Linked DNA regions of Homo sapiens: region 2 is linked to region 1. Evidence: fine-mapped expression QTL. A gene starts in region 1. The other region holds a variant in brackets. All regions are shown on one strand. Distances are between the middles of the regions.

Region 1 (5,374 bases):
GGTGGAGTGAGTTGGCAGGGATTGCTAGAGAGGGGAGGCAGGGTGGCTTGCTGGAAAGCAGAGCCAACAAGCTGGTTCTGGTTGCTGTGGTTGAGGCCAGAGGTACAGGCCTGGGAGGTGCAGTTTTACTACCCTGGTTCCTGTTGGTATCCAAGAGTGTGGAGGTGGGAATGCTAGCAACCCCCTTCCCACCTCTCCTTTCCTAATGCCTCCTCCCTGGCTCTCCCTCCAGAGGAATAGCTCTGAGCTGAGAATGAAACCTATAGGAAAAGAGGGAACTTTGATGCAAGATGTCTGGGCTTCTTAACAACAAAAAAGGATGGGAGACAAGGAGGCAGAAACCACAGCTCCAGTCTAAATCTTATTCCACAGGGAAATCGAGAGTAGAATATAACGGGACAGCGCAGGACAAAAAGACACCCTGCACAATAGATGAATTTCAGGGTTCTAAGAGGAGAGAGGAAACAAGGTGCATCAGTGTGTGAGCTTAGCCTCCTGTTAAAAACCATGAGTAAGGAAACGAAGTCAATTCTGGCATAGAGGCTGGGAAGAGTTTTCTGGATAATTGGTTTGGAAAAGAAAATAAAAAATAAGGAAACCCAGTCAGAGAGTTAAGATTCTTCTGGGAGGGGAACCCAACAGACTCAAGAATTGATGGCTCGGAATGAGGCGGCCCACGGGAGACAGAGGCAGAGGTCGAGGGCCAGAGTGTCAGATTATGACTGTGGCAAACTAGATCCAGGTTTGGGGAGAAAACACACCGGAGGTAAAAGAAAAGTGAGGAGAGGGAGAAAGGGAGGTTACTGATTCCAAGGTCACAAAGCAACTGCCTTTCTCTCTGTTTTTAATTTGTGCACAAGATCCCACTGGCTAAACAAAATGATGGCTACACTGGGAGGAGGTGTCGCCTCCCAGGCCCCCACCCACACACACTCCAAAGGAGCTCATCCATTTGGGCCTGAGTGGCCATGGCGGGGGAGAATAGATTCACTCTCTGTCTTTCAGAAGGAAGAACAAGGCCCAGAGGAGGGAAGAATTCACTATGGGCGGCAGATTTTGGTCATCAGAGGAAGGGGCTCTGCTGCTTGGAGTCGTGGCCCCGGGGTGGAAGCTATGGCTTCCTGGTGATGTGCTGAGCTCTCTGGCCCTGGAAACGCTTGCGTGCAGATCAGTCTTCGTATCCAGACTGAAAGACACCTTGGAGATCATTTGGACCAAAGGCCTCATTTTCACCTGAGAAGCTGTCGTTTTTCCCTTGATTCCCCCGCTAGTTAGTGGCAGAGCCAGTCTCCTCTAACTCACAGCCGGAATGATTTCCATCACCACAGAAAGGTTAGGCCATAAATATACATTTCCAACCTGAACCAGCTCAGCGACTGTCCCTAGTAATTCTCTCTCTTTGGCCACAAGAGAAGGCACAGCACCACACCCAACTCTGGGTAGAGAAGCTGACACGACGACAGGTCAGAGTCAGAGTATCTTCTCAGCTGCTTGCTCAGCCACTCTGTCCGAGTTTCCCCAAAGCGGGAGGAAAGTGAAGGCATGGGAGGCCACGTGCCAGAACTTTGAACCTCGGCTCCCCGGGCTTGCGTTGGGCACCTGGTAGTAACGGGAGTTTCTCCATTTCTTTTCCCAACTATTACAGGATCTTTTACGGCCCCTGTCACTGTCAGTTTTACTTTGTTAGGCCCATCCACAGTACGTTGAAAACCACCTCGCACAGCCATACCTATTGATGTAAAAAGGCAAAGAGACCACGCTCTCCTGTTTTCCTAGGAGGAAACTGAGGCACGGAAATATTAAGTGGCTTTGGCTAAGTTAAAAACAGAAGTAGGAATCTACCTGCTGCCCGGTCCACTGTGCTGTCCATCATCTCCTTAAACTGGGGAGTTTGGTAGATTTGCTCAGGGTTCAGAAAAGTGGCAGAAGGGGCGGCCCGAACAGGAGAAAGAGGGCGCAGCGAGGAGGTGGGAGATTCAAAGAGCCGAGGACGGAGGCTGGGAGAGGAGCGACGTATGGGAAGCGGGGAAGAGACGGGACTCTCCGAGGTATGGTAAAAAAGAACCCCCCTAGAAGATGCAGCAGGAGAGGAAACGGAGTGAGCCAAACAGAAGGCGGTGGGCAAAGTTTGGGCTGCGCGGACTGGAGCGCGCGCCTGGGTGTGGACGGCCGAGGGCATCCCGCACCCGAATCCCTAGCTCGCGCGTGGACCCCACGGACCTCCTCCCCGGGAACCGCAAGCCCGGAGCGGCTGGAGGGGCCCGGTCTCCGCCAGCGTCTCGGCGGGACGGGCGGGGAGCCTCTCTCCGGGTCGCTCTCCGAGGGGAGACGCGAGGAGCCCCCAGGGTGCCCCGGACCCACGTGGCCGGCGGGCAGGCCCGGGCTCGGGAATTCTGCGCTCGGCCCCGCGGCTTCCCCCGCCCGCAGCTCTCCCCGAGTACGCGCGGGGCGACGCCGGGCACCTGAGGGAGAAATGGGTGGGAAATCGGGTCTGAGGATGGGATGAGAGGCGGGTCCCCCCAACGCAGGAGCCGCCGCCGCCGCCCACCCCCGCGCCCTTCGCCTCCCCTGGGTGCTACTTACTCCGGTTCAGGGGGTTCCCGCCGACCTGGGCCGACGCCACCAGTTCCAGATACAGAGTCCAGAGCCCCACAGACACCACGGCGAGCGCCAGCAGCAGCCGGAAGCGCCTCCGCAGCAGCTTCACCGGGCGCAGGAGCAGCGGGGGCCGCGCGGCCCGGGGGCTCCCCATGGCGCTGCGCCGAGGCGGCCGCCGCCAGCGCGGGCTCCAACCCCCCGAGCCGCCGCCCCCCGGCCGGGCCCCGCGCCCAGGGCGCCCCGCGTCCCGGCCCAGCGTCTCAGGGCTGCGCCGAGGCCGTCTCTCCCGGCCGCTCTCCGGCGGGGCTCGGGCTCATGCTCCGGGCGCGAGGGGTCTCCGGGCTGCGCGGGCGCCCAGCAGGTCTCTCCGGGAGCCGAGCCCGGCTCCTCCTCCGCGCGTGTGTTCCGCGCCGGGCTCTCCTCCCCACGCCTCTCCCGTCGCAGGCTCGCTGCCGCCCTCCCTCCCTGCGCGCCCGCCCTCACTCGCTGCCCAGAAGGAGGCTTCCCCGGCGCCCGCCCGCCTGCCTCCGCCCGCGCCCCCGCCAGCCCCGGACCGGGCTCCGGGCTCTGGGCTCTCCTGCTCGCGGAACCTGGCCCGCCCCCGGCCCCGCCCCCGCCCCCGCCCCGGGCACAGGTGGGCTCCGCCCCCGAGAAGCCAGGGACGCGAAGAGGCCATTCGGCTTCCCTAGGGGAGCGAGAGGTGGGGCCAGAGAACTGGTGCCTGGTGCCTCCCCCGACTGGGAACGGGTGGGATGAGGAGGGGGCGAGTGATGATGCGGACTCTGGGTGACCGAGGGAAACCGAGTCACCACCCAGGCGCCTAACGGTGTGGTTTTAGGCAGAAGCGAAGTAGAGGCTGGTTTGGGCGACGCCCAAGGCTTTAGCCTCAGAGCCTTTCGTCGCCAACAGCAACGACCCGACTCCCTGCTTGACGAAACCAGTAGGCGTGAAATATCACGGGAGCCACTGGACGCTTAACGCAGACATAGCTTCGTTTTCCAGTTGAGATTTGAAGACCTTTCTTCCCAGCCTGAACCACATCTCCGAGAGGCGCTGGGGAAGTCGTACAGCCCCCACGGTGAACCCCAGCAAGCAGTTTTCCCCAGACTGGGCTGGAATGGCTGTTTGAAGAGAGTAGGTGTTTGAGGGTTCCGAAAAAGAATTTTAAAAAGAAAAGAAAAGTATTCACTCTTAGAGTTGAAAAGATCAGCAAGATAAGCCAGGCACAGTGGCTCACGGCTGTCGTCCCAGCACTTTGAGAGGCTGAGGCAAGAGGATCTCTTGATCTCTGGAGGTCAAGGCTGCAGTGAGCCGTGATTGCGTCAGTGCACTCCAGCCTGGGCAACACAGCAAGACCCTGTCTCAAAAAAAAAAAAATCAGTATTCCAGTCCTCTGCCTTCAGGCAGGTAAAGCATTATTATCTGATTTAAATTAGATAAAGTATCAAGGGGCAGAATAACTGCCCCAGGTCACTCAGCAAGTTATACTGCAGTTTTCTTTTCCATTATCTCTTCTGGGAAAAATGGTCAGGAGACTATGGGAAAAGTGAAGGATCAAAGTGTTCCTGGACATTTTAAAATCAAATGAATATCACACAAGTACTGTTCCAAGACAGAGGTTCTCACAGAATTGAGAACTATGTTTCCCTTCTCTCTGTTCTCACCTCAGTTGGATATTCAATAGTTTCTACAGGACTTTTCCTAATTAGCCTCCCCAACTCCAAGCTTCCCATCGCATCCTGTCCACTACCACCAGATGGTCTTCATAAAAAGCCAGGCATGGTGACACACACCTGTAGTCCTAACTTACTCGGGAGGCTGAGGTGGGAGGAGTGTAAGGTTGTAGTGAGCCACAATCATGCCACTGCACTCCAGCCTGGGTGACAGAGCAAGACCTTGTCTCAAAAAAAAAAAAAAAAAAAAAAAAATCCCGTATGTAGTCACACACCTGCTCAAAAATATTTAATGGCTTCCAATGCTTATTGATTAAGATACACACTGTAAATCCAGAATTCAGGGCCTTCCAGAACCTTTTCCAACTTTATGTGACCACATGAAACCTGCTCCAGCTAAAACGAGTTTATTCACTACCCTCCAACACATTTTCTTTTCTAGTTGGTCAACTTGTACCCTTTATCCAAGGTCCATTTCAGATTCTATAAAGCTTTCTTGGACCAGCCAAGTCCTAAGCAACTCCTTCCTTTCTGGAGCTTTAGTAGAACTTGCCATCTGTCTCACCATCTGATATGTTGGAACTTACTTGGAGTGTGTGAGTCTTGTTTTCCCAACCTCACTGTAAGGCTTCAAAAATGGGAGCTGCATTTCCAGTGGGTGGTACAATGTCCACTTAGCACTTAGGAAGGTTTGAGGATGGGGGTAGCACTTTGAGCAAACATCTTCCAGAACTTTCACTGCAGTTCTTTAGCAAAAAGGGTGAATCCAAAGGACAATTCTCTAATTGTAGCCCCTGGGAAAGGTCTCTGTGAAGTTCCAAAGCCACAGATTCCTGTACTTCTCATGTTCTTCTTTCTTTCCACAAGTCCAAGATAGGAGCAGCCAGTGTGTGCACGGCCTGTGCAAGCTCGGCTGAGTCAAGTGGGAAGTGACCGGGCCCTGTAAATAGAGTCCCTCTCTTACTAAGGGCAACCCAACTGGATTTTAGGTTGAGTCACTTTTAACACTTTGTCATGGAAACAGGTGGCAGCCTTGCCACAATTCTCTCCTCAAGACTGAGAAAGCTCATGCAATCACTTCGGTCAACCAAATGCTTGAAGCA
Region 2 (5,374 bases), 56 kb before region 1:
AAATATTCAGAAAAATAAAAATAAAAAATACGATAATAGAAAATACAAGTTAAAAATACACAGCATGACAACTATTTACAATGCTATGTAACTGCAAATGCTATTGCATTGTATTAAGTATTAGAAGTAATCTACAGATGATTTAAAGTATATGGGAGGGGCTGGGCACAGTGCCTCATGCCTGTAATTCTAGTACTCTGAGAGGCTGAGGTGGGAGGATAGCTTAGAGCCCAGGAGTTGGAGACCAGGCTGAGCAACACAACAGACCCCATCTTTACAACAACAACAATTAGCCGGGCATGGTGGCACACGCCTGTGGTCCTAGAGGCTGAGGAGGGAGGACTGCTTGAGTCCCTGAGTTGGAGTCTGCAGTGAGCTATGATCACCACTGCACTCCAGCCTGGGGAACAGAGTGAGACCCAGAGTCTTAAAAAAATCATATGGAAGGATGTATGTAGGTTATATGCAAATACTGCACCATATTTTATATAAGGGACCTGAGTATCCTCGGATTTTGGTATCCATGGGGAATTCTGGAATCAATCCGTCGTGGATACCAAGAGACAACTGCGCATAGCTGCCTTGTTTGGCTCTGAGTGGATGATTGAAGATGGGTAAGAACCACTTTCAGAGCAGAAAGATCTGGAACTGAATTCCCACCCTGCCACTTTTTAGCTTGTGACCTTTGGCAAGTTCCTTAATATCTTAAAGCCCAGTTGTTTCACCCCTCTACCCTCATAATTCAGCTGGAAAGATGAATTAGGTAAATGAATGAATTAATTTCCAATGCACAACAGCCCTGTAAGGTACTATTCTCCCCATTTTCCTAACGATAAAACTGAGGTTTAAAGAGTTTACATGATTTGCCCCAGATCTTAAAAGTAGCTAAACTGGGATTCAAACTAATTCTGTTTGGTTTCAAAGACCTCACTCTTCCCACTACTGCCTGGTTAATTCTCATTCCAATCCTGTGAAGCCAGTATTGTGGAGCCCCACTGGTGAGGAATTGATAAGTCATGGCTGATGGTCCTGCCACGGCCGCTAATGCATGGCTGGACTGGAGTTCACACCCAGCCTGCCTCTCCTATGCTTTCCCCATGGCACAGCCCTGCTTCATGCAGGAAGGATGGGTTTGATAACATGACAAGTACATAACTGAGCACTGAGCAAAGTCTCCTGGAATCCAGAGAGGAGGATCCTGGTGGTCAGGGAAGACATCATGGGGAAGTAGGTCATGAATAGGCATTTTGGGGAAGGTGGAATTGCTGGGTCTGGGAATGTAAATAAATCACTGAAATAAAATAAAACGGAAATAACATCACTGTCCCTAAAGAGACCTAGATTTTACAGGGCCACCTCCAACCCCCTCGCCTCCCACAAGACACCTGTCTTGGGTCCCTGACTGGAACCCAGAAGCTTTGTTTCTAAAATACAAGTAACATATGTTTACCTCCCTCCCCCTAAATCACAGAGTACAGAAGTGTGTCAAGCAGAAGGTTATGATTCCCCTGTAATCCCTGATCTTCTCCCATGGGCTACTCCTTATCCTTTTGCTAAATGCTCCTCATTTTTCCTTTAACCTTTAAACACTGGATTGCTTACCTTAGGGTCAGTCCCCGATATTTGTCTTTGCCATCAACACTGCTGCCTTGCTGATCTCAGCAGGTTTTTTGGGACACCATCTGTACATTGATGACTTCCCTAGCCTTAGCCTGAACTCCCCGCTTATACAGTGAATTTTCTTACTCACTCTCTCACTTGGATACCAAAGGCATCTGAAACTTAACCTAACTCTTGATTTTTCCTCCCAAACCTGCACCTCTCCATCCTGTAAATGACAACTCCAGCCTTCCAACCACCCAGGTCAAAAATCTTCAAACTACTTGATTCCTCTCCCCATATCCAATCCCTCATTGATTCCTCTCCCCATATCCAATCCCTCAGCAAGTCTCATCAGCCATACTTTCAAAAGCCATCCAAAATCTGATGACTTCTCCCTCCTCCGTCTCCACCACTCCAGTCCTAGACATCATCGCTCTTCCAGTCCCCTTGTATCCACCCCTGCACCTATGGTCTAGTAGCCAGAGGAACTCCACCAAAATGTAAGTCAGGCCATGCCAGTCCTTGCTTGGAACCTTCCAGTGACTTCCCAAATCACTCAAATACAATCCAAGATCCTTCTGATGGCCAATGAGTAACGTTTATTGGGGAAAGACCCAGTTTACACTTGTTACCCTGACAATTATTAATGGTACCTGCTTTCACTCTCAAAAATATTCCAATTTAAACAATCAATTATATGGTTGCTCAACGAGTAAGGCCTTGCAGATTAAATCTCCGACCTTGTCTCCTATCTCTTTACCACCATTTCATTCCAGCTACCCTGATCTCCTTGCTGTCCTTCCAATATGCCAGGCATGCTGTACCCCGGGCCTTTGCATGTCCTCTACCTAAAACACACTTCCCTGCGAAGGTTTCTTGCCCTTTTTACTCAGATCTCTGCTCAAATATCAGAAGCCTTTCCTGATCATCCTATCTATAATAACACGCTACCTCCAGCCTATCACTCTCTTTCTAACTCTGTATTATTTTTCTCAATAGCATTTATTACCACTTGACATATTATGTGTGCATGTGTATAAAATCTATCTTCTCCCCACACATATACTTTGAATGTATGTTCCATGAAAGCAGGATTTTTTTTTTTTTTTTTGAGACGGAGTCTCGCTCTGTCGCCCAGGCTGGAGTGCAGTGGCACTATCTCGGCTCACTGCAAGCTCTGCCTCCCGGGTTCATGCCATTCTCCTGCCTTAGCCTCCCGAGTAGCTGGGACTACAGGCACCCGCCACCACGCCTGGCTAATTTTTGTGTGTGTGTGTGTT[T/GT]TTAGTAGAGATGGGGTTTCACCACGTTAGCCAGGATGGTCTCGATCTCCTGACCTCGTGATCCACCAGTCTCAGCCTCCCAAAGTGCTGGGATTACAGGCATGAGCCACTGTGCCCGGCTGAAAGCAGGATTTTTGTCTACTTTTTTCATTATGCCCAGCACATAGGTACTTGTTCAACAAACAATGTTACTGACAATAGTATCCCTATAGGCAGTAGGGGAAGAACTTCAGAGTCAGGCGCTAAGACATCTAGCTTAATCTCTAAGCCTTGGTTTTCATCTCTGTGAAACAGCTATATTAGTAGTATTTCCCAAACGGGGTTATGAGGATCAAATGAGAGTGGCATACGGTAAATATTCGATAAATACGAGATGATAAAAACAATAAGAGCTAACACATTTAGCATTTACAATATGCCAGGCAGTGTCTTAAACATCTTACAAATTTATCCCTTTTAATTGTCATAAAAACCCTTTGAGGCTGGGTGCGGTGGCTCACGCCTAAAATCCCAGCACTTTGGGAGGCTGAGGCAGGTGGATCACGAGGTCAGGAGATTGAGACCACCCTGGCTAACATGGTGAAACCCCGTCTCTACTAAAATACGAAAAAAAAAATTAGCTGGGTGTGGTGGTGCCCGCCTGTAGCCCCAGCTACTCAGTACTCGGGAGGCTGAGGCAGGAGAACCGCTTGAACCCAGGGAGGTGGAGGTTGCAGTAAGCCAAGATTGCGCCACTGCACTCCAGCCTGGCAACAGAGTGAGACTGTCTCAAAAAACAACAACAACGACAACAACAAAAAAACCCCTTTGAGGTAGGTACTATTATTGCCTTCCTTTCACAGATGAGGAAATTGAACTTCAGAGAGGTTAAGTAACTTGCCACATGGCTAGTAAGTTGTGGAGCCAGGAACTCAAGGTCTTTGGTTCCAGAATTTGTGTTCTTTCTTTCTTTTCTTTTTGAGACAGAGCCTTGCTCTGTCACCCAGGCTCAAGTGCAGTGGTGCGATCTCGACTCCACCTCCCAGGTTCAAGCGATTCTCTTGCCTCAGCCTCTCGAGTAGCTGGGATTACAGGCTCCCACCACCAAGCCTGGCTAATTTTTGTATTTTTAGTGGAGACGAGGTTTCACCATGTTGGCCAGGCTGGTCTCGAGCTCCTGACCTCAGGTGATCTGCCCGCCTTGGCCTTCCAAAGTGCTGGGATTACAGGTGTAAGCCACCACGCCCAGCCCAGAATTTGTGTTCTTAACCACTATTCTGATTCAATTCTAAACTCTTCTTATACATGGACCCTTTTTTGTTTCCTAGAAATCCCAAGTATTCACCACAACCAGTGATCAGACATAAATAAGAAAAAAAAGCATCTCTTCTCCTTCTCTGCCTCCCCACCATAACTAATGTTGACAGTGCAACAACCTTCCATGCCTTCCTCCTTGCTCTCATACTAATAGAATTTATTAGTCTTTTATTTAAAAAAAATAGGCTGGGCGTGGTGGCTCATGCCTGTAATCCCAGCACTTTGGGAGGCCGAGGCGGGCAGATCACGAGGTCAGTAGATCGAGACCATCCTGGCTAACACGGTGAAACCCCGCCTCTACTAAAAATACAAAAAATTAGCCAGGCGTGGTGGCGGGCACCTGTAGTCCCAGCTACTTGGGAGGCTGAGGCAGGAGAATGGCGTGAACCCGGGAGGTGGAGCTTGCAGTGAGCCAAGATCGCGCCACTGCACTCCAGCCTGGGGGACAGAGCGAGACTCCGTCTCAAAAAAAAAAAAAAAAACAAAAACGGACAATAACAAGTGTTGGCAAGAACATAGAGAAATTGGAACCCTCATACATGGCTGGTGAGAATGTAAAATGGTGTAGCCGATTTGGAAAAATCTGACAGTCCCTCAAAACATGGAGTTACTATTTGACCCAGCAGTTCTATTCCCAGGTATACACCCAACAGAAATGAAAGCCTCAGCGCAGCATTATTCCTAATAGCCAAAAAGCGGAAACAATGCAAATGTCCATCATCAACTATGAATGGAGAAGCAAAATGTGGTCTATCCACACAACAGAATATAACTTAGCAATAAAAAGAAATGGACTGGGCACAGTGGCTCACGCCTGTAATCCGCATGCTTTGGGAAACTGAGGTCAGAGGACTGCTTGAGGCCAGGAGTTAGGGATCAGCCTGGGCAACATAGGGAGACCGCGTCTATACAAAAATGTTTGAGGCCGTAGTGAGCTATTGTCAGAGGTGCTGGAGCAACTCCACCTTGAATAGAGGCTGGCTAAAATAAGGCTAAGACCTGCTGGACTGCATTCCCAGTAAGTTAAGCCATTCTTAATCACAGAATGAGATAGGAGGTATAAGATAGGAGGCATAAGATACAGGTCATAAAGACCTTGCTGATAAAACAGACTGCAGGAAAGAAGCCGGCTAAAACCCACCAAAACCAAGATGGTGATAAAAGTGACCTCTGGTTGTCCTCGCTGCTATGCTCCC

Evidence for each region. PIP is the estimated chance that this variant, and not a neighbour inherited with it, causes the effect.
Region 2: its variant is the best candidate, but not a certain one, in a credible set for the expression of B4GALNT3 in tibial nerve (GTEx, PIP 0.82).

Annotation. Positions count from the first base shown.
Region 1 is chr12:457,755-463,128 of GRCh38, reverse strand. B4GALNT3 (beta-1,4-N-acetyl-galactosaminyltransferase 3) reads right to left here and starts at 3,190. Exons shown (of 20, transcript NM_173593.4): 1 at 2,584-3,190. The coding sequence starts at 2,752. RefSeq lists an enhancer at 3,039-4,022.
Region 2 is chr12:513,485-518,858 of GRCh38, reverse strand. All of the region lies in intron 1 of B4GALNT3 (beta-1,4-N-acetyl-galactosaminyltransferase 3), which reads right to left. Among named protein-coding and RNA genes, the nearest start is that of B4GALNT3, 56 kb to the right of the region's middle. The variant T/GT (reference allele first, on the strand shown) is at 2,883.